Linked DNA regions of Homo sapiens: regions 1, 2, 3 and 5 are each linked to region 4. The links come from fine-mapping of genetic effects on gene expression. A gene starts in region 4. Each other region holds a variant in brackets. All regions are shown on one strand. Distances are from middle to middle. Region 1 overlaps INPP4B (inositol polyphosphate-4-phosphatase type II B). Region 2 overlaps INPP4B (inositol polyphosphate-4-phosphatase type II B). Region 3 overlaps INPP4B (inositol polyphosphate-4-phosphatase type II B). Region 4 holds the start of INPP4B (inositol polyphosphate-4-phosphatase type II B). Region 5 overlaps INPP4B (inositol polyphosphate-4-phosphatase type II B).

Evidence for each region. PIP is the estimated chance that this variant, and not a neighbour inherited with it, causes the effect. A credible set is the group of variants that fine-mapping cannot tell apart.
Region 1: its variant is the best candidate, but not a certain one, in a credible set for the expression of INPP4B in blood mononuclear cells (TOPMed, PIP 0.78).
Region 2: its variant is the best candidate, but not a certain one, in a credible set for the expression of INPP4B in rectum (CEDAR, PIP 0.51).
Region 3: its variant is the best candidate, but not a certain one, in a credible set for the expression of INPP4B in whole blood (INTERVAL, PIP 0.87).
Region 5: its variant is the best candidate, but not a certain one, in a credible set for the expression of INPP4B in nasal epithelium (TOPMed, PIP 0.77).

The regions. Positions count from the first base shown.
Region 1 is chr4:142,656,212-142,661,345 of GRCh38, forward strand. The region is part of intron 2 of INPP4B (inositol polyphosphate-4-phosphatase type II B); the gene reads right to left. The region is part of intron 2 of LOC101927613 (a long non-coding RNA gene); the gene reads left to right. Among named protein-coding and RNA genes, the nearest start is that of INPP4B, 190 kb to the right of the region's middle. The variant G/A (reference allele first, on the strand shown) is at 3,089.
Region 2 is chr4:142,321,008-142,326,007 of GRCh38, forward strand. The region is part of intron 7 of INPP4B (inositol polyphosphate-4-phosphatase type II B); the gene reads right to left. Among named protein-coding and RNA genes, the nearest start is that of INPP4B, 520 kb to the right of the region's middle. The variant G/T (reference allele first, on the strand shown) is at 2,642.
Region 3 is chr4:142,693,438-142,698,571 of GRCh38, forward strand. All of the region lies in intron 2 of INPP4B (inositol polyphosphate-4-phosphatase type II B), which reads right to left. Among named protein-coding and RNA genes, the nearest start is that of INPP4B, 150 kb to the right of the region's middle. The variant T/A (reference allele first, on the strand shown) is at 2,020.
Region 4 is chr4:142,843,752-142,848,885 of GRCh38, forward strand. INPP4B (inositol polyphosphate-4-phosphatase type II B) reads right to left here and starts at 2,550. Exons shown (of 26, transcript NM_001101669.3): 1 at 2,458-2,550. All of the region lies in intron 3 of USP38-DT (USP38 divergent transcript), which reads right to left. RefSeq lists an enhancer at 3,307-3,893.
Region 5 is chr4:142,520,598-142,525,731 of GRCh38, forward strand. The region is part of intron 2 of INPP4B (inositol polyphosphate-4-phosphatase type II B); the gene reads right to left. Among named protein-coding and RNA genes, the nearest start is that of INPP4B, 320 kb to the right of the region's middle. The variant T/C (reference allele first, on the strand shown) is at 2,359.

The DNA of each region.
Region 1 (5,134 bases), 190 kb before region 4:
CTTTTCTCCATTCTCACCCAATAGAACCCTGTTTTGCTCACCCTTTAAACTGTCTGTGAGCCTAAATTTTCATAGCTGGGAAACAGATAAGAATCCCGTCTGTAGCAGAACTAAGGAAAGTCCTGCATCATTTTTGGCGCCCAACATGGGGCTCGAGAAGTGGTGAATGAAATGGGGACACAAAACCTCTCACTGTTGCTTCTAAGCCTTTTCATCCTGGGACTTCTGACAGTGGGGAAAACCATACCCCTACCCCCTGTGGATCCTGGGCCTTTTCATGGCCTTTTCCTTCCTTTTTCGGGACTCACTGCTGAGCAGCAGCTCCCTGCTTTGCTGGGGCTAGGATGCATGGCCTAAGGATCCCGCACAGCTGGCTGGCTGGTCCTAACCACTTCCCGTTGCAGCAGTCTTCCCCTTCCTTGGCCAAGGGGTGTAACTCTATTGGACAGCAATTAAGCTTAAACTTGTCTCCCTGGTGGAGGAACCATTTGCACAAGAATAAGAGGCTCTTCCCCAGGAATTTTTAAACTGCTTTTTTGTTCTTTCTCCTTCTCTACCTCATCAACAAGTTAGCCCTTAAAGATTTTTTTTTCCTTTTAGAAGATGTTTTTACTGGGTTAGGCCCCCCAACTATCACTGTTTGTACTCTCTGTAAAGTTTTGGTTGTGGAAAAGGATTTGTGGGACTAGTCTTTGGCTGTGGCCAATCTGGTGTGCTTTACACGTCTGTATGGTTTGTGTTGCAAGCCTCCATCTTGCTTTACATCCTGGGGGCATGGCCAGTAGCCACTTGGCAAGGCTTTGTTTCACAATCCTGTCTGAGGGGATGAGCCCTCTCAGATTAGACATCTGCATGTTTTCCTAGCCCTGTCTCTTAAAGGGCTGCACCCAGTGACTGGGTGGTCCTCTGTGTGTGTACTGTGTGTGATATCTGTAAAAAGAGCTCTAATTAATTTGGCCTAAAGAAAAACAAGCGCTTGGATCTAACATTTTTTAGAGGGAAGATAAAAGCTGTGGTATCCTTCAGTTCACATGACTTTAATCTTTAAGAAATATAAACAGCCCTAAAGACCACTGGTAAAATTCAGGTCAGATGCAAGGTTTGTTAAGTGTTTTGAGGTTACAAACTGCTTTTTGGGTTTTGAGATCTATTTGACTTGTCAGCTTCACAACTGGTAAGGTGTGGACATATGGAACTAATCACACCCTTAACTAAGAATGCAAACCTTGGCTGCACTTAGCACACAAAGCAACTTACCAAGTTTTATCTTAAAGTTAAAAATTGCTAGGAGTTAATTGAAACTACTAGAAATAGATTTACATGCAGGGTGTGTAAGAACAGTAAAATGTGTTTTTTAGTAAAAGGTTATAAGAAGGCTTGGAAATGTAAACTTTTGCCTAGGGTTAAAGAATTGTTTTGAGTTAAATTAGGAAAAAGCTGAAGGTTCAAAGAAGTGGTGAAAGAACTGTGGAAATTAATCTTTCAGAAGAGGTTCTTTGTGTAAACATATTGACTAAATAGGTTATAAAATGTTTTTGCTGCTTTAAAATTTCTGAGTCATCATTTTGGAAAAATAAATGACATGGTAATCTGGAATTCTATTTCATAATATCAAGTGTTTTAAACCTGGAAGATATTTAACGGATTCTGAAAATCAAATTTAAGTTTCAAAATTGTCTTTTTTGACACCGGGCTTTTCAATTACTTCGGAAGGCCCCTGAAGTGTCCAAAAAGAGAGGTAAATAGGATCATTTGACATGTTTAGGTACATAGGATTGCCAAAATGTTATTCAATCTTCTTAGAAAATAATGTTCACATATGTTCCAAAATTGCATGGGATTTCTAAAATCCTGATGTCTAACGATATGCTATCAATCATAATTAAGGTTATGTTAAGTTATTGTAAACCATGAAGATAACCAAATTTGTCAATTGTGTTTCTAACTGTAACTCACTGAACATTTTGCTCTTCACAGACAATTGTTGTCTTGCTTTAATCCTTTTCAAAAAATGGTTTATAATAAGCTATAAAACTGTAATAGGTGCTCTTAAATACAGGCTTCTGATAACTTTGGATATTGTAACATTGGAATACAGGAAAATGTACAGGACTCATGAAGAGCTGAAATGTTCACAAATATCAAGTAAAACAAGGGCTAACTAAATGGACTAAACTCAGAAAACTAAAGCAACCTTTTTGACTTTTGGTTTAAATATTGCTGATCCTTGTTCTGTTTTTCATAGTCAAGGAAACTTATTTTGAATGATTTACAGCCTTTAAGAATTAAGCAAGGTATAATCCTGTGATCAAGATATGGAGCATGTTTGTTTGTCTCTGCCTGGTTCCTCTAGAATTTTGAAACTATCTGTGAGCATTCTTAACTTACGGCATTACAGTTGTTTGCATCAGTGCAATAAGAATCCATTTTTCTTTTGCAGCAGGATGCAATTGGAAGAATTGGTTATTTTACCAAGGCTTTAACTAGAAGGGTATGCTTCCCTTTAAGTAGACGATCTTGACTTGCAGAGCCAATAAAAGCCCAGTGGGGAAACTGGTCTCATACCTCATCTATGCAGTCCCTGTACAGGGTTCCTGACCTGTGGTCAGTAAAGAATGTCACGTTCTAACAGTTCTAGGAGGTCCAAGTTTATCGACCTTAAGAGGACAGAAGCACCCAACTCACAGGTGTTTGAAGATACAAACCCATGGTTGGGCTTGGCTTTAAAAGTTCTTATCTGAGACTCCTTGTGGAACAAAATCCCATTAAAGCCAACCCAAAAGGCGTATGTAGAAATAATCATTCTTGCTGCACTTTATGCAAATAATCAGGCCAAGTTTAAGACTAAATTCTATTTTGCAAACCATTCAGTCCTATAATTTTTTTTTTAACAAAAATGAGGACTGGGCAGGGCACGGAGGTTCACACCTATAATCCCAGCACTTTGGGAGGCCGAGGCGGGCAGATCACCAGGTCAGGAGATTGAGACCATCATGGCTAACACGGTGAAACCCCGCCTCTACTAAAAATACAAAAAAAAAAAAATTAGCCAGGCGTGGTGGCAGATGCCTGTAGTCCCAGCTACCCC[G/A]GATGCTGAGGCAGAAGAATGGCGTGAACCCGGGAGGTGGAGCTTGCAGTGAGCCAAGATCACGCCACTGCACTCCAACCTGGGCGACAGAGTGAGACTCTGTCTCAAAAGAAAAAAAAAAGAGGACTGGAGAGAGAGAAATTATGTTTCAAAACTTATATATTGGTCACTAAATTCTAAACTCATTAGTTGTTTTTAATTTTTTGCCTACATTTGAAACTAACCCTGCTTGTTCCTATGAACCAACCAGCAATCTCTAGCTGCAGCTCAGAAACAACATGAGGGATGGGTGATGTAGAAATCCTGATAAATATTCTAGTTCTGAGTAATTATCCTTCAAATCCTGCCAGGTGATGGGAATAAATAGGATGCCCATCACTCGGAGGTTTCCTTTTGGTAAAGTAAAACCAAGGGAGCTAACCAAAGCCAAGCACCATGCACCCAAATCTTAGCAAGCATAACTATAGCAAACACTCATCTGGGTGTCTCACAAGACATCCTTTCCTCTCCCTTGTTGGAGGAGGACTCAATTCCACAGCTTCACCTTGCATTCGGCTTATGATAAGGCATCCATGCAACCCCACCCCCACCCGTGAGATACAGTTTTGTCCCAGACTCAATTCTAAGCTTTGGTTCAAAGCCCTAGGAAGGAAAACTGGATGTTAAGGATCCAGAGGCAGATAACAACAGAGGTTAAAAGGCACCGAGCAGGTGAGTGTGGCTGATTTCTGCCAATTAAGCCAACCCCAAGCTTCCTGTTTCATGGATAAAGACCACGTTAATATCCATAGCATAAATGAGGTCTAGGGAACTCCAAAGCTACTGACATTAGGTGGGAAAGAGACATAGGTGAGAACAGATAATTCCTTTTCTCTAGCCACCCCCTCCCCATCCCCCACTTCATGGGTACAAGCTGCTTTGCATGGCGAGACCTGCCAAGGTCACCAGGACTTGGGGATGCAAGGATGGAAGAGGGAAAGAGGATGCTGTTCTCTCTCTCCCTCACTTACCCCTGGGTATCTGCTAGGAAGAGAAGGGAACTAGAGATGGCTACTCCCCTCTTTCTAGATGGGTAGCCATTCATCTTCAGTCTGTACCCCTTAAAATGTATCCTGAACCCCTGGAACTCCTTTAAAAGGCATCTTCTTTTTATTCCTTTCTCCTCCTTGGTTCTCTCTTCACTGATATTTAATTGTGTCTCTGTACTATGGGACACTCCCCTCAGATGCATTTTCCAAACAGGAAAGAGTTAATTTCCCAAAGCTGAAACTGGTTGCCTTAGGACTGGGCCCAGGGGAAGGAAACCCAGAAGCCCAACATGCCACCAAAAGGGTAAAGATTTTAACTAGTCAGGCTTTTGGCCTCCCTCTCTCCATGCAAACTGGTAAAGGGCCTCAGGATTTTTGAGCTGTCCTTACCCCTCCCCTTGTTTCACTTTGATACATGTTTTCTAATAATTGGGTTTGTCTGTTCTTACCTTCAGGCCATCAAACTCCAAACAGTCATGCAACCAGAGCCTCTGAAGATGGCCCCTTCTGCCGGGAACCCTTAGATCAGCCTCTGAGGGAGTTCTGCCATTTCCCCAAAACAGCGCCCCCTGTCAGCAGGAAGCGGTTAAGATCAGTCTTCATCCTTATCCTTAATCTAACCACAGTTAGATGTACTTCTTTAGAGGGGGGAATGAGACAGCCAGTGGGAGGGGATTCCTGGAGAAACTCCAAGCAGCCTGCGCACTGGGGTGGAGCCTTGGGAAGTTCACACGATTTGAAGCAGGGAGGAGCCTGCCTCGTCGTCTTCCTGTGTGGACCTGGGATTCAAACGCCAGGCAGGTGTTTCCCCCACCCGTTTTTCTCCCTTTTCACCCAATAAAACCCTATTTTGCTCACCCTTTAAACTGTCTGTGAGGCTAAATTTTTGTGGCCTTGGGATGGACAAGAACCCAGTCTTTAGCTGAACTAAGAAAAGTCCTACAATACCAGGGAGGTTTACATTTATCAATAAGAACATAAAAACATATGGGCAGTAATAAAATAAATTTCAACATGC
Region 2 (5,000 bases), 520 kb before region 4:
GTAGATCTACTTTTAGTATGTTAAGGAATCTCTGCACTGTTTTCCATAGTGGTTGTACTAGTTTACATTCCCACCAGCAGTGTAAAAGTGTTCTCTTTTTACCACATCCACACCAACATCTATTATTTTTTTGATTTTTTAATTGTGGCCATTCCTGAAGGAGTAAGGTGACATCACATTGTAGTTTTGATTTGCATTTTCCTGATAATTAGTGATGTTGAGCACTTTTTCATAGGCTTGTTGGCCATTTATATTTCTTTTGAGAATTGTTTGTTTATGTCCTTAGCCCACTTTTTGATGGAATTATTTGCTTTTTTCTTGCTGACTTGAGTTCCTTGTAAATTCTAAATATTATCCCTTTGTCAGATGCATAGTTGGCAAAGATTTCCTCTTTTCTTTTGCTGTGAAGAAGCTCTTTAGTTTAATTAAATCCCATCTATTTCTCTCTGTTTTTGTTGCATTTGCTTTTGGGTTCTTGGTCATGAATTATTTGCCTAAGTCAATGTCGAGAAGGGTTTTTCTAATGTTATCTTCTAGAATTTTTATGATTTCAGGTCTTAGATTTAAGTCTTTGATCCATCTTGAGTCGATTTGTGTATGAGGTCAGAGATAAGGATTCAGTTTCATTCTTTTACATGTGACTTGCCAATTGTTCCGGCACCATTTGTTGAATAGAGTGTCCTTTCCCTACTTTATGTTTCCCTACTTTTGCCTGCTTTGTTGAAGATCAGTTGGCTGTAAGTATTTGACTTTATTTCTGGGTTCTCTATTCTGTTCCATTGTTCTATGTGCCTATTTTTATACCAGTACCATGCTGTTTTGGTGGTCATAGCCTTATAGTATAGTTTGAAGTTGGGTAATGTAATGCCTCCAGATTTGTTCTAATGAAATTTTGGATTTATTTAGTATATGGTTAAGAGAAAATAAAGCAACATAGCTAACATTAAATCTTCATTTACTATTTTAAGGCCAGCAAACATGTATCAAGCACATATTATGATTCAGCCACTATTATAAGCACTGGCAATCTCAGAGAGTAAGAGATTAAGAAGACAAGGTATATTTCGTTGATACGCAATAACAATGGCATGGTAAGAGTCAAACATCTAATAATAATTGCTAAGAATCTTCAGCTTTCTAAAATCTATCAGCTAGTCTTAGATAACGGTTTTCTAGTTGTTTAATTTTAATCTTGCATGGAGAAAATGATGCATGTACAAACCTAAATGATTTAGGTCACAGAATCTTAGAGATGCAAGGAATCTCTCAGTTAATCTAAAAAAAAAACTAGGCAATATGAAAATTATATCTGAAATATTCCTGGGAAGTACATTGAACATTTCTTCTTCAACATTTGGAATTTCTAGCTTACTATCTCACAAATCAGTATCATAACGGTAGTGTTACAAACTCACATGCCCACAGGCTCCAGGTAGGTAAAATTAATGAAAGGAGTGGCCTGGGTGTTTGAGACAATAGGAATTGGAGAGGACTCTGGCAAAATGGAATCACATTTCTAGTCTATAAGAAGTGACAACTACCCAGCTTCAACGGATTGAAAAAATTCTGAGAAATATTCCTTCAAATATTAACAATGGGTAAATATTAATTCTTTTGAAAGTGGGCTATTATTACCATATGCTGATTTTTACCAGAAACATGCTTTGTAACTAAGGTGAGTGGGCCAAAGCAAGCCCACTACTATTTTAGTAAAATTAGTTTTTAAAATGTGCTACCCTAAAACAGTTGTTATTAACCTTGACAACACAGTAGAATCGCCTGTAACATGTTTTTGGTTTTGTGTTTGTTTTAAATGCCAATTCACAGGTCACACCCCAGAATAATTAAATCAGAATGTCCAAGGGAAGGACCCAAGCATCAGTATTTTTAAGGTGAATACTCCACTTGATTCTAATGTGAAGCCAAAGTTAGAGTAAAGAACTATTGCTATAAAATAAATGAGATTACTTTTTGGTAAGAATGAGCCTCACAAACTAGCTCTAAGTCCTATGAAGAATCTTAAAACACATTGTGCCATGTTCAAGCCATCAAATATGGTTCCCTTTGAAAAGGACACACAAAAAAAGTTAACAGATCATCAGAGCTAGAAGGCCCTCAGACATTTTTAGGAAACGTTCCTTAAATTTTAGTGTGCATACTCATCCCCTGCTGGTCAACAGCTGGTCAGAAGGATGGTCTCCAGACCATTCTCTAGAAGTCTGTTAGAAATGCAGTATCTCAGGCTTACCACAGACACGTGCATCATAGTGTTCATTTTGGTAAGATTCCCAATTCATTTATGTGTACATTAATGTTTGAGAAGCTCTGGTTTGGAAGAATGCTCATGAGTGAAATGGGTCATAATGAGAACAGGTCTTCATTGCACCTAAACATGCCTGAAATAGAAATGAGGTTCATTATTACGGTTATGATGACTTTTTTTTTTTTTTTTTTTTGAGACGGAGTCTCACTCTGTCGCCCAGGCTGGAGTGCAGTGGCACGATCTTGGCTCACTGCAAGCTCTGCCTCTCGGTTTCACACCATTCTCTTGCCTCAGCCTCCCCAGTAGCTGGGACTACAGGCACCCGCCACCACGCCTGGCTAATTTTTTGTATTTTTAGTAGAGACGGGGTTTCACCAT[G/T]TTAGCCAGGATGGTCTCAATCTCCTGACCTTGTGATCTGCCCGCCTTGGCCTCCCAAAGTGCAGGGATTACAGGCGTGAGCCACAGCGCCCAGCAGATCTTTTTTTTTTTTTTAATGTCAAGCCACTGTAAAAGCTCCAGATGATACCTTCCAGCAGACAGGTGCCCCCTTTTTATGTGAGGCAAATGGCAGGTAAGGTGAGGGGTAGGGAGTCACTCTTCAATCAAGTCAGAGATTGATCTGGGACAGAGCTGGGCTGGAATTGTTGGTACAATTCAGTGTCATTGGCTGAAATGTGTTTCTCCAATATTCATATATTGAAGCCCTTACTCCCAAGTAGCTCAGAACGTAATTATTTGAGATAGGGCCTTTACAGAAGTGATTAATTTAAAATGAGACCCATGGGTTAGGGTGCTAATCCAATGTAACTGGTGTCATTGTAAGAAAAAGAGGAGATACCAGAAAAGCTCTGCCCAGAGGAAAGACCATGCAAAGAGGCAGCAAGAGGGCCACTGTCTACAAGCTAAGGAGAGAGGCTTTGGAGAAGCCAACCTTGCCAGCACCTTGATCTTGGATTTGCAGACTCCAGACCTGTGAGAAAATAAATTTTTGTTGCTTAAGCTACCCAGTCTATGGTATTACTTATGCGTAGCCCTAGCCAACTAAGATTCTAAGTCTACCTGTGTTATCTGGTATGGCCCTCTGTGTTTTCAACCAACAGCCTGACTGGCCTTTGCTTCTCAGCCCTGAAAAAGTGGATATTGTTAAGACATTCCACTATACTTCTTTAACATTATACCTGACACAGCCTCAGAATCTGACAAAAGTCTTTAGAGGGAGACCAGCCATGAGTTTGAATCTCTTTTGGACTCCAAAACTGTCATTCCAACTATGCATGAAAACCCAAATCTCTGCTGAGTGTTATGCCTGCCAGTTGCCACCTTCTGTTTGGCAAAACCTTGATATTCAGACTTCTAGCCACAGGGAGACTCTGTGAATACCTCCAGGTGAAAAACGGCTTTTTAGTTTCTCAGTGTCAACTCAGCACTCCCCCTAGGGCATCTCTTGCCTGTTGTCAGTTTCTCTCTCTAGTTTCCCAAGCACTGTGAAACTATGGGGACTTTCACTTTGCTTTTTGGAAGCCTTTGACCTGGTTCTCCAGCCTTCTGCAAAGTGTCAGAGTTCACCAAGTCTCTTCTGAGAAAAAAATGGCCACTTACTTGAGGCCCCTGAAGTCTCCATTTCTCACTTCATCCAATACAACTGCTGAAAGCTTTTTTGATTTCTCTTTCTCCAAGCAGCAGCTCTCTGTCTAGGCAAAGGCCTACTCCTCAGTCCACTCTCAGAGTCAGCAAATACCCCTAGACAAAAATCATGGCTCCCGATAGCTCAGCGTTGAAAGGTTCTCCTTGCTCTGGAAATTTGGTCTCTCTAGTTATTTTTGCTCTGATAGCTTAACGGTGCTTTCAAACATGTGATTTTTGCAATCAGCCTAGCTTCTTTTCTAGGTGTTGCCAGAAGGAGCAGTGCTTGTCCCACCTACCACATCCTACCCAAACCGAACTCCTTAATATCCAGAAAAGTTATTGGTAAGCTAAGAAATCTTCCAAACATGCGGTCAAGGGATGAAAAATGATATTCAACAGACTATGGTTATATGTAACTGGAGAGGAAAAAATGCCATTTAAATATTGGTCTGTCTGTTGAGTTACGTTTTTGACAAACTGGTTACAAATGCATAATGACAGGTGGTTCCTTTGGTAAGACTAGAGCTTACTCTGCAGCCTAAACACAATCCCAATTAACCAACTTGGATAAACAATAATTGTTGAGTGGGATATGCTATCTTGGGTTTTACTCACTAAATGCGATCATCTTTCAAATGTCAAAGCACACTCTACCAAATTATGTATACAAGTTCATTCTATAGGCTTCCATGCCAAAAAGAAATACTAGTTAAGACAAATAAAAGCACTCTTTTAGTTTGGATGCTCTAACCTTAGATGTTTTCCATTTCTCTAAAGCAGTGATGTTCACACCACAGCTCCTAGTCACATGGGTCTCTTTATGTTTAATTGGTGGCGCTTTAAAACTTCTAATTTCTCTATATGAATGCGCCATTATACTAAATTCTACCAGTCATACAGGACTCATGTAGTTCTTTAGGTTAATAGTGACTGCAAATGTGGCTCCAGAGTCATATAATTCTGAGTATCCCTGCCATTACCCACATTTTATTCCACTTCCCTTTCCGACTATTATAGAGATCTATTACAAGCAGGTGAAAGAATACTGAATGGCAACAATATCTGTAGACATCACCTTCCTTTATCAGAGAATCACTGAAAGATACAGGAT
Region 3 (5,134 bases), 150 kb before region 4:
TACAACTTTCTGGCATTTAGCTGGCTATCTTAAAATGCCTTTTTCTAAAAAAAAAAAAAAAAAAAAAAAAAAAAAAAAAAAAAAAAAAAAAAAAAAAGCCTGACATCTTTAAGGAACTCTCCATTTGTAAGGGTGTCTGCTTGCATACATTAAACTCTTAACCATTATTTTAAATTTATAAGCTATACCTTTATTTGAGGTGCTTTTCCTCACCTTCTTAACTAAAATTTACTTACATGATTTTTTTCCCTTGGTTTGAACAAGTGATGGTACAATATTCAGGCCTAATGTCTTCACGCTATGCTTTCAAAATATCAAAATTCAAATGATATATGTTGTTTTATCTTAGCTGTTCCTTTAGAAATGCAAATTTAAGGTTGCCTAGCTAACAATAACTGAGAGCAAAGAAACAGATAATCAAGAAATTGACAGTCTAAAGTAGGAAGAAAAAGCCTTGAAAACTGGCAAATTAAAAATATCACAAATTTATAAGATCTGCTTCTCTCTATGTGTCTATATGTCTACTTAATTACACTGGTAATATGTGATGTCTTACTACTAAAATAAATAAAAGGGCTCTAATTTATTGGTTTAAAGAAAAAGTAAGTGCTTAAATCAAGCATTTTATTAAAAATTTTTTAAAAAAGAAAGCTGACTGGGCATGGTGGCTCACACCTGTAATCCCAGCACTTTGGGAGGCCGACGCAGGCAGATCGCTTGAGGTCGGGAGTTCCAGACCAGCCTGGCCAACATGGTGAAACCCCGTCTGTACTAAAAATACAAAAATTAGTCAGGCATGGTGGTACACGTCTGTAATCCCAGCTACTCAGGAGGCTGAGGCAAGAGAATAGCTTGAACCCAGGAAACAGTGGTTGCAGTGAGCCGAGATTGTACCACTGCACTTTAGCCTGGGTGACAGAACGAGACTCGTCTCAAAAAAAAAAAACAAAAAAGAAAAAAAGAAAAAAAAAACCCTTTAACTCAAATGCCTTTTAGTTCACATGTCTTTAATAATCTTTAATAAATAAAGCTAATTTTAAAATTATTGATAAAGTAAAAATGTCTTCCAAATTAGACATTTGGTCAAAACTGGTCAGGCAGGTCAGATACTGTCTTTGCTACTTGTTTGAAGGTTATAAACCACTTCTGTAATATTTTTTAGAATTGTTTAACTTGTCTGTTTTGGAGGCATTTGATTCTAGGCTCTAAACTAATAGGCAGGGTAAACTATGCTGGGAAGGGTCAGACATTATCTGCAGCTTCGTCCTTTGTGGTGAGCTCCGCATCTGATACATAATTAAAATTGCACTAATTTTTCAGTGAACCCTTAGAGGGTTCACGCTGAGAAGAGCCTACAGCCCCTACACTTTCCCTTAACATTTTTGAAAAATATATTTGCTTTTACTGCATGTATAGGGAGAGATATCAACTAAAAAGTCCCTCAGAAAAAATATTTTCTCTACTGGGAGCAAAAACATAAGAAAAACCACTTTCTGGTTTAAAAACCCTACCTGTCACTATTGATCCAGTAATAAAATAGGGTCTTGTGGTGGGGGTAGGGGTATTATTCTGCACCTATAAAGTCAAGGATATTTGCACAAATAGCAACACAAGTTAATGTGCCTACAACACCTTCATAATCATTCACTTTTTTTTTAGTATTAACACTTATTCCCATGTAGTAAAATTATAAAATTATGTATAAATTCTACAAAACATTACCTGACAAAATAAGTTCCCTTATGGAGACATCAAGATCACTGACCCTATTTCAGAATAGCATAAAGATAATAAAGTTCTAAAACTGAGTTTCAACAATGACCCAGGAACTGAAGGGTCCCTAATATGAAGCTAATTCTCAAACAGCCTTGCCAAAGTTAAAGCAAAGATTCTGTTAGCCAGAAATCCCAAAACAAACCTTCTGCCAAATTGAATAGCAATTTTGTTTCCCTAAAAATAAAAATTTTTAAATTAATACATAGAAGTGAGTTTTAATAATGCCAAAAATATTATTTCCTA[T/A]GTAAAACATCTAAATGTCTTAGTTCTTACTGTGCTTTTCAAGCAAAGGATAGAATGTAATGCAGCTGTCACTTCCCTAATATAATTATCTGAAAATTATCAGTTTATTTTTAAAATACTATGCATAAATTTATGATGAAAATAACTAGTTGAAAGAAAAATAAGATGTTCCATCATGTTGTTAGCAGCATGCCTCAAAGGCAGGAACCTACCCAACAGATACGATTTAATAAACTGTGCAATAGAATTTAAATCAGTTATATAATGCTCATTAAGACAATGACAGTGCTCTATCCAACAGAGCACTAAGTTACTACAATCAAATCTTAGTTGTCAGGCATAATGCTTGAAGGAAATAAAAATATTTTACCCCAAAATATACTTATTTGGCATATTTTAAGATGGATATCCAGAGGGCTACAAATTCCCCTCAACCCCTATAGGCTCAAGGCAGTGTTTCTTATCTTGATGTGGGATCTCAAGGGAAAGGCGGGCCAGGATAATCCAAAACCTAGACACTGTGGATCAGATGACAGATCAAGTTCAAGGAGAGCCAGCTGGGACTAGGAGAATTAGACAGGTGCCCCTGGATTGAGCAAGAAAATGTTGAGTATTGACAAAGTTATCAGACGAGGAAAGGTTAGAAAGGTCCCAGGAGCCTAGAAGGGCAGTGTTTACAGTCCAGGAAGTCAAATAATGACACCAGCATATTCGATGGATTAAGGCACACTCTGATTCTAAAACAGATCATTTCCTCTGTGCCCTTTTCCATGTGTCTGATAAGACAGAGAGTGTGCCTGGTCCTACTAGCATTTATACCATCCTCAAGGGGCCAGAAAGCCCCAGGAGAACTTTCCAAGAGATCCTCATGCAACAACCCACCTTGTTCCATAACTGTGCCCAGCAGCTCAAGGGAACAATTATAAACAAGGATACCACCCCCAAAGAGTAATAAAATCTAGCTGAGGGGACAAAATATACACAAACATCAGTGCAAGGCACTAACTGACCCAGGCTGTAATTCTGTGGTACAGATACTCCCTTTCCCCACCCCAGCCCTGACATCTGTCTCCTACACAAACTACACCTTCAGTGCTTGCCCAACTTTGTTGCTTACTTCACTGCTTACACCCACTTAAACTGGGTCATCCTGGCATCTGCAGTGCCCACTCAACCCTGCGTCCCTCTGCCTTGCCATCAGCTACTACTTATGTTGTTCTCCAAACATTTCAAAACCAGGCACTACACAGCCATCGACTTCTGATCCTAATTCACCATGTCCTTTACAGCCAGCCAGTAGAGAGGCTCAGTAAGAGGGCAAATTGGATAACACCAAGGCTGTCCAAGAAAAGCAGGTTTATAGTTCCATTCTTTTATTGTAAAATTACTTATTAAATTACTTCCCTTTGCATGTTTTACTTGTTTTTATAACAGTGCTTTCCTCTAGCAAGGAAGTAGATAAAACCACAGTGTGCAGCCCCGCACACTCCACTGTATGTGTTTATTCTTAGAATGGTAAGTCAGAGAGAGTGGAACACTGGCAAGCTTTCACCTGCTTTTAGTTTAAAAGGATGTCAGTTACAGTTTATTATCCCAATGATGCATTTTTAAAAATTCTTACAATCATATTATATACATGTGATGTTGATGTCAATCATAAGCAGCCTAAGTTACATTGTTATTAAAATTACCTGTTGTACAATGCTTCATATTTTCCAGGAAAAGGAGACATTTAAATTATATGGTTTTGGTGAAAACACATCGGTAACTGAACATGGGATGAACAACCTCTATATCATTCTCCCTTTTAATACTGTTAGGCTTTCCCCAACCCACACCAATGCCATCAACCTTGCTCCCAGAAAAGCTACCTAAATTCTCTGAGTTGCCATTCATAAAAACAGAGTCTGGGATCAACTGTGAAAGTGAATTATATACATGAGTGAATAAATCAAAATAATACTCTAACGAAATAGGTAAGCCAAGTTTATTGTTTCTGGCAGTAGGCTTTAACCATGTGATAATGTTCTGTTGATTTTCTCTTAAAAATGTCATCCAATTACATAAAACTGTCAATCAATCTTAATCAAACAAGATTTGGACAATGGATTCTTGCTGGGCTTTTCTATATGATTAAACGATAGGAACTTATTTGCTTTATTACTTTATATGGCCAAAGCATATACTGGAAACCTACAAGAAAAACAGGAGACAAAGGTGAGCTACAAGCAAGGAACTGAAGAAAATGCAGCCATGGAAATTTCCCAATATCATGAGTTATTCAGATTTCCAAGCTGGATCAAGTAGAAATCCTAGAACATGAGGCATGGGTAAAAGTTCTTAAATAGGGCCAAGACATTACAAATCCCTTTCTAGGCCATGACTTACTTAAATCACATTTTGTTCCTGTATTCATATGTAAATAACAATAATAATAAAATCCTTATCAGATAAACTCAGAGTTTTAAAGACTACATTTGAGAATTTCAAATTCCTAGAATACTGAATATTTAACAAAACAAGGGCTATAATTTAAGGTTAGCTTCTTATAATATGAAACATGCTTGAATTTAAAAAGAGTATAATGCAAGAAGACTGGCTGTGAAAATTTTAAAATTCTAATCTGCTTATAAAACACTCAAGCTGAAATAAATCTTGGCTGTAATTAAGATAAGTAACCACAGCTATAGGGCTACTGTTAGCATGAACATGCCCTTACCAGTAAGAGAAAACAATTAAGTTACAGATCTTACAAGTTATAAACAATTTTTTTCTGAAACAAATCCATCATTTTTATTGATTTGAAATCAATAGAGTTTTCATAAATTATTTCTCATAGAAAAAAAGACATACGAGATTAATTTTTAAATCTTAGCACTGAAAGGGTAGGTCACCATTTCTCCTTCCAGTGTTATTCTTGTCATAACTATTTGAGATTTCAATATCCACAGATATGATCTTGCCTTTTGTCTTAAATGATTGTCTCCACTTTATTAGGACTATTCATTTTCATTACCAGACCCTAGATCTTGTCACTACCAATATCTGGACTTTCTGCAGATCTCAATCACAAGCATCTCATTTCCTAATTTTTCTAACTCCCATTCTGTGTCCA
Region 4 (5,134 bases):
GGTTGCTATGAGTTTTAAGATCAGTTAGCAGGTTTTTTTTCTGTCTTTCAGAGAATTGTCATCTTGGGTTCTCCCTCAAGGTAGTGAAAGTTAACTTTGTTACCCATCTGGGGATTTATAGTACTTATACTAGAAGATGCTCCAAGGTTTCAGAAAGGAATTAATTACTTTCAATTTGCACAATTTAGAACAAATATCTGGCTTTTCCCTAAGCTTAATGATTTTCCATTTCACACAACTAAAATATAATAGCATTATTTTATAATCAAGTTTAACTGATGGTCTATGATAGTAGAGCGATTTAGTATTTTGACAAAAATCTTATGAGACATGAAGTCATTCAATTTGCAGCCCCAAACTGAAGCTCAAACACAACATTTTAAAAGTATTTTCTGCCTATACCTTTGACTGCATGCTACTTTAAATAGAGGGACAAGACTAAATGGTCTATCTGGTTGTTCTTACACTTTATAAAGAGTCAAAAGCAAATTTGAGTTATAAATATGCACATCATAGTGATCATTATTTTATCACAAATAAATATTGATTTGCTTAATCAAAGAGAATACTCTCCTAGAATAAGAGCAGTATTTCAATCTGCAAACATGTTTCTTAATGTCACTGAGCATTTAGCCTATCTTCACACACACATTTCATAACCTTTCAAGGACAATCTTCTACATCACATTTTAAGGAAATACACTGAAAAAGCAATCCATTTTGCAATAGCATTTTACATTACTACAAATTCACGAGGTTCAACCTTCAATGCCCATGTACCTTTCACAAAACTATTGATCATTTCCTATCAATGCTTTACAGGATTATATCACAAAGGAACACATAATGCATGTATGTGCATCAATGCGTAAAGGAGAGGATGCATTTCTGTGCATAGTATGTGAACTGACAATGCCCACTTGCCCAGTCCTTGCTTTACTCAACTTCTTACACATCATCAGCCAGCTGCCCTGTTGATGATTCCTTGCACCTTATGCGCTGCTTTATCATTGAGTCAGATTACTACCATTTCTGGTCCAGAACTCATTAAGAAAAGTCCTTTTTCAAGCAAGGTCTTTGAAATGTAGTTGTACACCTATAAAAGAACTATCTGGAGCTCATCTTGAGAGAGAGAAGATGAATTTATCCTCTGTCTTTAGGCTTTTACTTACAGAGCCACACCTTTATAAACAAGTTCTGTCTGTCATACTGACAGGAAGGAGATATGCAAAATGTAACATCTGGAGTCATAAAATATAATGACCTCAAATAACATTCCAGAAAGAGAAAGGAAAACTAGTTCTGGTTAGGGAGAAGATAAAAGAGGAAAAGGAGTAAATTTACATCCTTAAAACAAGAGTAATAGAAAACCCTACCGGGTTTTTCCAGTAAGTTTTGTGCAGCAGCAGCAACAACCTAATCAATATGTGCTTCCTCACCCTCTTGTCCCCAAAGAGAAACTGCTGGGCCCCTCTCCACCGACTCCCCAGGAGCAGAAACTACTGCCCCCAAGGAAGGGAGAATTCAGAAGCGTGGGGAGGGGGAAAAACAGGTATATGTGGTTCTAGCATCCTCATCTTCATATCAGCTACCAGCCTGAAACTACATTCAGGAACCAGGCTCCCAGACATTCCCCGGCCCTGGGCCCTGCCTGAGCGCCAGAGAGCTTGAGGAGCCTGCAGCATAGTTCTCAGACCCGAAACAATGACCTCCCCCGTCCAAACCCAGGCACTCTTGCGCCAAGGCCCTAACCTCTCAGCGAGACCTCTTTGGGGAAGGACAAGAGATGCTGCCTGATGGCCGAGAGAAGACATGCCAGGCTTCTCTGCCAGAATGAGTTGTTGAGGGTGGGATGAAGGTGGTCAAGGAGATGGGCTCTTTATTTTTAAAACAAAAAACAAGGCAACCGGGACCACCAACATCAGTCACCCTCACTCCCCACCACTGCCTCTATTCCTTAAGGACTTCTTCCCAGGCCGGCGGCGGCGGCGGCGGCGGCGGCGGCAGCTTGCGATCATCAGGATTGGAAGTGAGAGCGAGTGCCCGGGCCAACCTCAGCGTCTCTCAGGGACAGCGCAGGTGGGCGCAGCCTTGGAAGGTCAGCGAGGCCAGAGCTCAGAGTTCCACGGGGGCCCGGAGAGTGTGCGTGTGTGAGTGAGAATGCGAAAACGCGCGCGCGCCGGGCAGAGGGGCGCTCGGCGAGAGGGTAGGCGCGGTGACAGGGGTACCCCAGCAGCCGAGGAGAGACAGCCCACCCCACCCTTTAAGCTAAAGAGCTGGAGGGGTGATGGAGGCTGCAAGACGGAGAAACTTGATGCAAAACAGACAGGCTCCCCCCTCCAAGACGTGCCGCCACGCTCTCAGACACGCTCCCTCGCCTCCCGGATTACCCACCATCAACCACCCCACCCTGCAAAATTCCCCCACCGAGCCCTAGGATCCCAGGCGGGTAATTACCTCTCCCGGAGGCGGAGTGGGGGGCGGCAGCAGCAGCAGACACTTTTAGCCTGACTTTCCTGCGTTCGCTTGCGAGCGTGTGAGCGTGTGCGCGCCCAGGAGGAGCTGTAACCTGCTATTTATAGACCGAAGCCTCAGTACCCGGGGCTGAGAACCCGGAGGAAACTAGCAGGCGGCGGCGACGGCGCAGGGCGCCGGCCGCGGCTTCGCGAGGCTCCAGCAGCTCCCCCAGCCTCTGGCTTCGGCCGCGCTCCCTGCTCGCTCCTCGCCTACCAGCCCCGCGCGCGCCCCAGAGAAGTTGTCACCAGCGCGGCTGGCTCTCCGGCTGCTCACACGCCCCCTGGCACAATTGCTACTTTCTTCCACCCCAACCCCCACCCTCCCCGCTCCTCTTCCTCCTCCTCTGCTCTCTCCAAGCGGTCTCCTCCCAATGTCACCAGCGACCGAGTAGAGGCGGCCGTGGCAGCGACAGTCGCGCAACTGGCGCTGCTCGCTTCCCGCTACTGATAGAGCGGAGATGGTGGCCCGGCTGCCCACCCCGAAATTACCACGCTGGCTCCGTGTGCTCACACCCCGTACCCCGACCCCTTTCTGCGGCCCCTCTGCCCGCTGGGTCGCCCACCCAGACTGGGCTGTGGGATCACCGCTACCGCGACGAGGGGGGACCCGAGGCCGCCACGCTGCTGCGGGGGCAGGAGAAACCACAGAGAAAGAACCCGCGGGAGGAAGAAAGCGCCCCAGACCCCGGCCTATGGCAGCGCAGTCCCTAGACCGAGGGTTTTTGGAAGGGGCTTGGGATCCCTGCTGTCACTGCCTGCGTCTAGGCATCCATTCACGCCTGCTGGACCCCAGTCTGCAGCCGCGCTGGGACCCCTGTCTCTTGCCCCTCCTCCCCCTTGCCCCGGGCAGAGGTCGGGCTGAGGAGACCAGCTTAGAGCAGCCCTCGGCCACCCACCGCCAGTTCCCACGTCGCGGCGGGTGACTGAGGCCGAGATGCTCCCAACTAGCGTATGACATGCCTTTGATATCCCGGGTGCGTGGGGACAAATCCGCCCTGAATGTGTTGGGGTATCAGGAAAACGGGGTATGTAAGCAAGCAGTCTGGACGGAGACTAAAACTCCCCCACTTCCTAGCCCCTAACAAGCCCACAGGGGAAAGCACGCACCCTGGTTATTCCGGGCTGTGTAGGGTGTGGGGCAAATGACTCTCCCCATCTGCGCTTTACAGGTGCCACCTGGCGGCTCTCTCGGAAAGGTTTTGATGGAGCCGTTCAAAGGTAAAGGTGCCCAGAGCCAGCCCATCAAGACACCCCAGCCCTTCTCCCTGAGGGCGCTTTAAAATCACATTTTAAGTAAAGCAGTGTACGAATGCTTGTACACAAGTGTTACATTTGCCATGCAAAAAGACTGGAATCTCAAAGTCAGGACAGTGAAATCAATTTGGGTTAAGTCGGGGCTTAACAGTTTCACAAACCAGGAAGCTGTATGTACCCCCAGCTGTCACCCCTGCTGTCACTGCCCGCATCTAGGCATCCTTTCACTCCTCAAACCTTTGACCACCACATTATAAGCCTTGCCAATGAGGACAGGGACTTTGGGTTTGTTTTGTTTTGTTTTGTTTTGTTTTGTTTGGTGGGGGGAGTTGTTTGTTCGTTTCATTTATTTTTTTCATCACTCTGCTCCCAGAGCTTGGGACAATACCTAATATTCTGTAGTTTCAATAAATGTTTATAGAATCAAATAATAAACACTATAGGCCAGAAACTGCTTGGCGCCCCCGAAGCCCTTCCTTTTGCTTCTCTTCAAGCTTTTTCTCCTATGCTCAGCCTCTACCCCAAGTGAGCTGAATGCAGAGAGATAGGAGAGTGAGGAACAAATAATCCCTGTCAAGATGTGGATCAGCTTTGAGAAGCCTTCACACAGTTAGATTTCTCCTCCATGGGGCAGCACTGAACACACCCATCTCCAAGCAATGGGTAAGCCGTGTTCATAGAGATCTGCTGGAAAGATGATACAACTTTCTCACTGGGCAGTTTCTGATTTTTCTCACAATAGAGAGAGATTGAAATAATATCAGGACATTAGGATGTCAGAGCTTTGCTACTAAATTGGAAATATGGTTAACATATCTGTCCTCTAAGTGGAAGAGTGTGTGTGTGTGTGTGTCTGTGCGTGTGTGTGTTTATGAAGACTACAGCAGCAATGCCAGAAATACCAAACCATACCTCCTAAAAGACTGAGTTGTAAAATAAATGCAGTTACTGATTCTATGGAAATGGACGTTTAAAGTGAGATGCTTAGAGGACCCTATTATAATTAAAGTCCAGACATGGACCATGCTGACAAAGTCCTTTTACAGGGCGGCTGAAGAATATGTGACTTACTTGTGTACATCACGTAGGAAGTTTGAATTCTCAGAAAAGAGAGAATATGAATCAGGATGCCATCAGATGCATGTACCACAAGGCATTTTTAAAAATCCATCAATCATCCTGATATTTACCTTTTTTAGTTATTTGGTGGCTTTTTCCTTGAATAAGCCTGGAGGATTCAGATGCTTCCGTGGTTTAATAAACTCATTCAGCATTCACTTTTACAAACCTTGAACTTTTGCTGACTTGTACCCCCAAAACATAACTCCATTTGCCAATGAAGGACAAAATATTTTTCATTTCCT
Region 5 (5,134 bases), 320 kb before region 4:
ATAGCATTCAAAAATATTTAAATGAATCAATTATTTAAATACAATGGTAAATTGGACTTACACTTAATATAGTTTTAAAAGGGTTAAGTTATTTTACTCTGAGAAATTATTGATGATATAATTCTGAGAAATCTGATGCACTGAATTTTATCTACTACCCATATATTATTAAAGTATAATTTCTCCTCAGATTATTTGAAAATATTTGTTGAAATAAATGAATGAATAAATGAAGGACAGATGTCTACAGAAACAGGTCTGGCAAAGTTTTGGCATAAATATATTCCATTTGTTTGAAAATAAATACCATTGACCTTATGATCTTTGTGTTCCTTAGATTTGCTTTTTAGTGCCATATAAAACTGTGTGCAAGGGCAATTTTTATTACTTCTCTCCCTTGACCCCAAACCTACATTAAGTATGATGACCTACACAATAATTTCTCAGAAAAATCAAACAAACCCATCAAAGTATTACTTTTATATCCATTATATGTCTACCTAAAAGGGAATAAGACTTTGGTCTCGGTATCAAAGAGATGAAAAATATAATCAGGAAAATTAAGTTAAATTACATGAAACAATTAGGGAAAATTAAGTGCTGTGATGTATAACAGCATTTCCCAAAATATCCATGAGTTGTTAATAGATGTTTCATTAAGACAAAAATAAAAGGATTCCATGGTAAAATAAGATTGGGAAATATTTCATAGCACATTATCCTCTTGGCAATTCATATTTCCATTAGCATATTAATGATGGAAAAGTTTTGCAGCAAAGAAAATTCTTGTGTTTTAACCAAGAATATCCAAAATTTATTTCAACCCATGAAAAACCTTTGTTAAATTTTCTATTTTTAGCCATAAAAAATTTCAAAAATCCTGAAAAGTGAAGAGAAAAAACTACAACAAGTACTGGCCACATTAATCTAACAGGCATTAGCACTTTGCCATATTTGGTTCAGATTTTTAAAGCTACATAATAATGAAACATCACTTATACAATTAAGGCCATCCTGACCCCTTTTGTTTCCTTCTTCCTTCTTCAGAGATTACCAGTAGTCTGAAATTGGTATGTATTCTTCTTGTCCATGATTTTATACTTTCGATTCATATATTTGTATTTACAAATAATACATAAGATTTCTGTGTTTTAAACTTAAAAAATATCATTTTGTACACATTGTGAATTAACTAGTCTTACTAGTCTTATTCAATATTTACATTTATGTGGTATATCTATGATAATGCATATAGAATTAGTTCATCTGCTTTAACTGAGAAATTGTATTTGTATAAATAGAGTCCACAAAATACAAGTTAATTTGTTTGGTATTGAGAAATAATTTAAAAGCACAGAGTGGTGAATTAACTAAAACATTCTTCATCCTAATATCTGTATCACAACAGTGGATTAGAATCTTGCCCTGTCACTTGACTGGCTGTGTGCTTTGGGCAAGTTATTTCTCCTCTACTGGATTCAATATGCATATATGTAAAACAATGACAATATTGCCAACTTTTTTTCTTTATGATTTACCTTTGATTTTATTTACCATTTCTTTTGTTGCATTTTTAAAGGTTTTTATGTTTATCAATTTTTAAAGTTTGTATTTCAGTATCTTATGTTTTCTTCTAAAATTTTCAGTTTTATTTTTCAAATTGAGAATTTTATTCCATCTACTATTGTGTCATGTAGACATTTACTTGTCCCAGGAACATTTCTTTCCTTCTTTCCCGCCCCCGCCCCCCACCCCGAGACATGAGATTTCCCTATGTTGCCCAGGCTGGAGTGAAGTGGTTATTCACAGGCATGATCACAGAGCACTGCAGCTTTGAATTGGCCTCAAGACATCCTCATGCATCAACCTCCTGGGCAGCTGGGACTACAGGTAATCAACACCACTCCTGGCCTTTCCAGTGATATTTCTTGGTTAATCTATCCCTTTGGTACTGAGTTCCAATGCTATATCATCATATGCCAAGTCTGTATAATAAAGGGGATATCATTAGTAGATGAGAGAAGGGAGACGGTTTACTATATCACCTGCTTAATCATACAAGAAGGGCTGCCTGAAAGAAGTGGTGGCCTCAGGTGGCATCTGAATATAGGTTGGACACAATAAGAACATGGGTTTTCATGTCAGACTGACCTTCATTTATATCCTTTCTGTAATACCCATTACAAGTGAATTAATCTTACTACAAATGAATTTCTTCACCTATAAATGAAGCTAATACAACTTATCTAATAGTATTATTTAACAAGCTACTATATTTTAAAGTGGCTACCACAGTAACTTGCATGTAAAGGGTGTTCAAAATAGTGGTATTGAAATCATGTGATTTCTTGTTGCTAG[T/C]AGCAGTCATGTCTGATTAGTAGCTGTGAGTTTGAAAAGAAAAGATGGAATTCCAAGGAAAGCAAAGGTAAACTGGAGCATCGCTTGACTAGAAAGATGAGAATTAGAGTTGATTCCAAGCTGTGGTTTGGAGGACAAGATATAACAAAAATTGAAGGTAGTAGTTTAGGACAGAGGTTCTCAAAGTTGTTCCAGCATGAACAGCAACAACAATTACTGAAAATTTATTACAAACGCAAATACAAACCCCAGACCTACTAAATCAGAAACTCTGACTCTGACGTGTGGACCAACAATTCATGTTTTAACTAGCCCCCAGATAATTCGAATGCATACTCAGGTTTGAGAATGTGATGGAGCATGTTTGGAGTATGATGAGTGGGAGGTGATGCTGAGACACAAGGTGAACATGATGTAAGAGGATTATCAGAACTGAAGATGTACACTTGTCATGCAAAGGGCTGAAATTCTTCTTTTCTGATGCCTTTACTTGCTTTCAGTTATAGGTTTTATTTTGCTGAAAAGCTTCCCAATCTCAGAATAATTTCTCAGCTTTCAAATTCTCCTTGCAATCCACCTACTTGGCAAAGCAAGGCCAGGGTTGTAACCCTTAATCAGTCTCCACTCTTCCCACAATGTCCCTCCTGCATTGCTCTCCTCCTGCTTTTAGCTTTTCTTTTTTCAATAAAAGTATGTATTATTTTTTCTTTTATTATTATACTTTAAGTTTTAGGGTACATGTGCACATTGTGCAGGTTAGTTACATATGTATACATGTGCCACGCTGGTGCGCTGCACCCACTAACTCGTCATCTAGCATTAGGTATATCTCCCAATGCTATCCCTCCCCCCTCCCCCCACCCCACAACAGTCCCCAGAGTGTGATGTTCCCCTTCCTGAGTCCATGTGATCTCATTGTTCAATTCCCACCTATGAGTGAGAATATGCGGTGTTTGGTTTTTTGTTCTTGCGATAGTTTACTGAGAATGATGATTTCCAATTTCATCCATGTCCCTACAAAGGACATGAACTCATCATTTTTTATGGCTGCATAGTATTCCATGGTGTATATGTGCCACATTTTCTTAATCCAGTCTATCATTGTTGGACATTTGGGATGGTTCCAAGTCTTTGCTATTGTGAATAGTGCCGCAATAAACATATGTGTGCATGTGTCTTTATAGCAGCATGATTTATAGTCCTTTGGGTATATACCCAGTAATGGGATGGCTGGGTCAAATGGTATTTCTAGTTCTAGATCCTGAGGAATCGCCGCACCGACTTCCACAATGGTTGAACTAGTTTACAGTCCCACCAACAGTGTAAAAGTGTTCCTATTTCTCCACATCCTCTCCAGCACCTGTTGTTTCCTGATTTTTTAATGATTGCCATTCTAACTGGTGTGAGATGGTATCTCACTGTGGTTTTGATTTGCATTTCTCTGATGGCCAGTGATGATGAGCATTTTTTCATGTGTTTTTTGGCTGCATAAATGTCTTCTTTTGAGAAGTGTCTGTTCATGTCCTTTGCCCACTTTTTGATGGGGTTGTTTGTTTTTTTCTTGTAAATTTGTTTGAGTTCATTGTAGATTCTGGATATTAGCCCTGGGATGCAAGGCTGGTCCAATATACGCAAATCAATAAATGTAATCCAGCATATAAACAGAGCCAAAGACAAAAACCACATGATTATCTCAATAGATGCAGAAAAGGCCTTTGACAAAATTCAACAACACTTCATGCTAAAAACTCTCAATAAATTAGGTATTGACGGGACGTATTTCAAAATAATAAGAGCTATCTATGACAAACCCACAGCCAATATCATACTGAATGGGCAAAAACTGGAAGCATTCCCTTTGAAAACTGGCACAAGACAGGGATGCCCTCTCTCACCACTCCTATTCAACATAGTGTTGGAAGTTCTGGCCAGGGCAATCAGGCAGGAGAAGGAAATAAAGGGCATTCAATTTGGAAAAGAGGAAGTCAAATTCTCCCTGTTTGCAGACGACATGATTGTATATCTAGAAAACCCCATTGTCTCAGCCCAAAATCTCCTTAAGCTGATAAGCAACTTCAGCAAAGTCTCAGGATACAAAATCAATGTGCAAAAATCACAAGCATTCTTATACACCAATAACAGACAAACAGAGAGCCAAATCATGAGTGAACTCCCATTCACAATTGCTTCAAAGAGAATAAAATACCTAGGAATCCAACTTACAAGGGATGTGAAGGACCTCTTCAAGGAGAACTACAAACCACTGCTCACTGAAATAAAAGAGGATAGAAAGAAATGGAAGAACATTCCATGCTCATGGGTAGGAAGAATCAATATCGTGAAAATGGCCATACTGCCCAAGGTAATTTACAGATTCAATGCCATCCCCATCAAGCTACCAATGCCTTTCTTCACAGAATTGGAAAAAACTACTTTAAAGTTCATATGGAACCAAAAAAGAGCCCACATTGCCAAGTCAATTCTAAGCCAAAAGAACAAAGCTGGAGGCATCACACTACCTGACTTCAAACTATACTACAAGGCTATAGTAAGCAAAACAGCATGGTATTGGTACCAAAACAGAGATATAGATCAATGGAACAGAACAGAGCCCTCAGAAATAACGCCGCATATCTACAACTATCTGATCTTTGACAAACCTGAGAAAAACAAGCAATGGGGAAAGGATTCCCTATTTAATAAATGGTGCTGGGAAAACTGGCTAGCCATATGTAGAAAGCTGAAACTGGATCCCTTCCTTACACCTTATACAAAA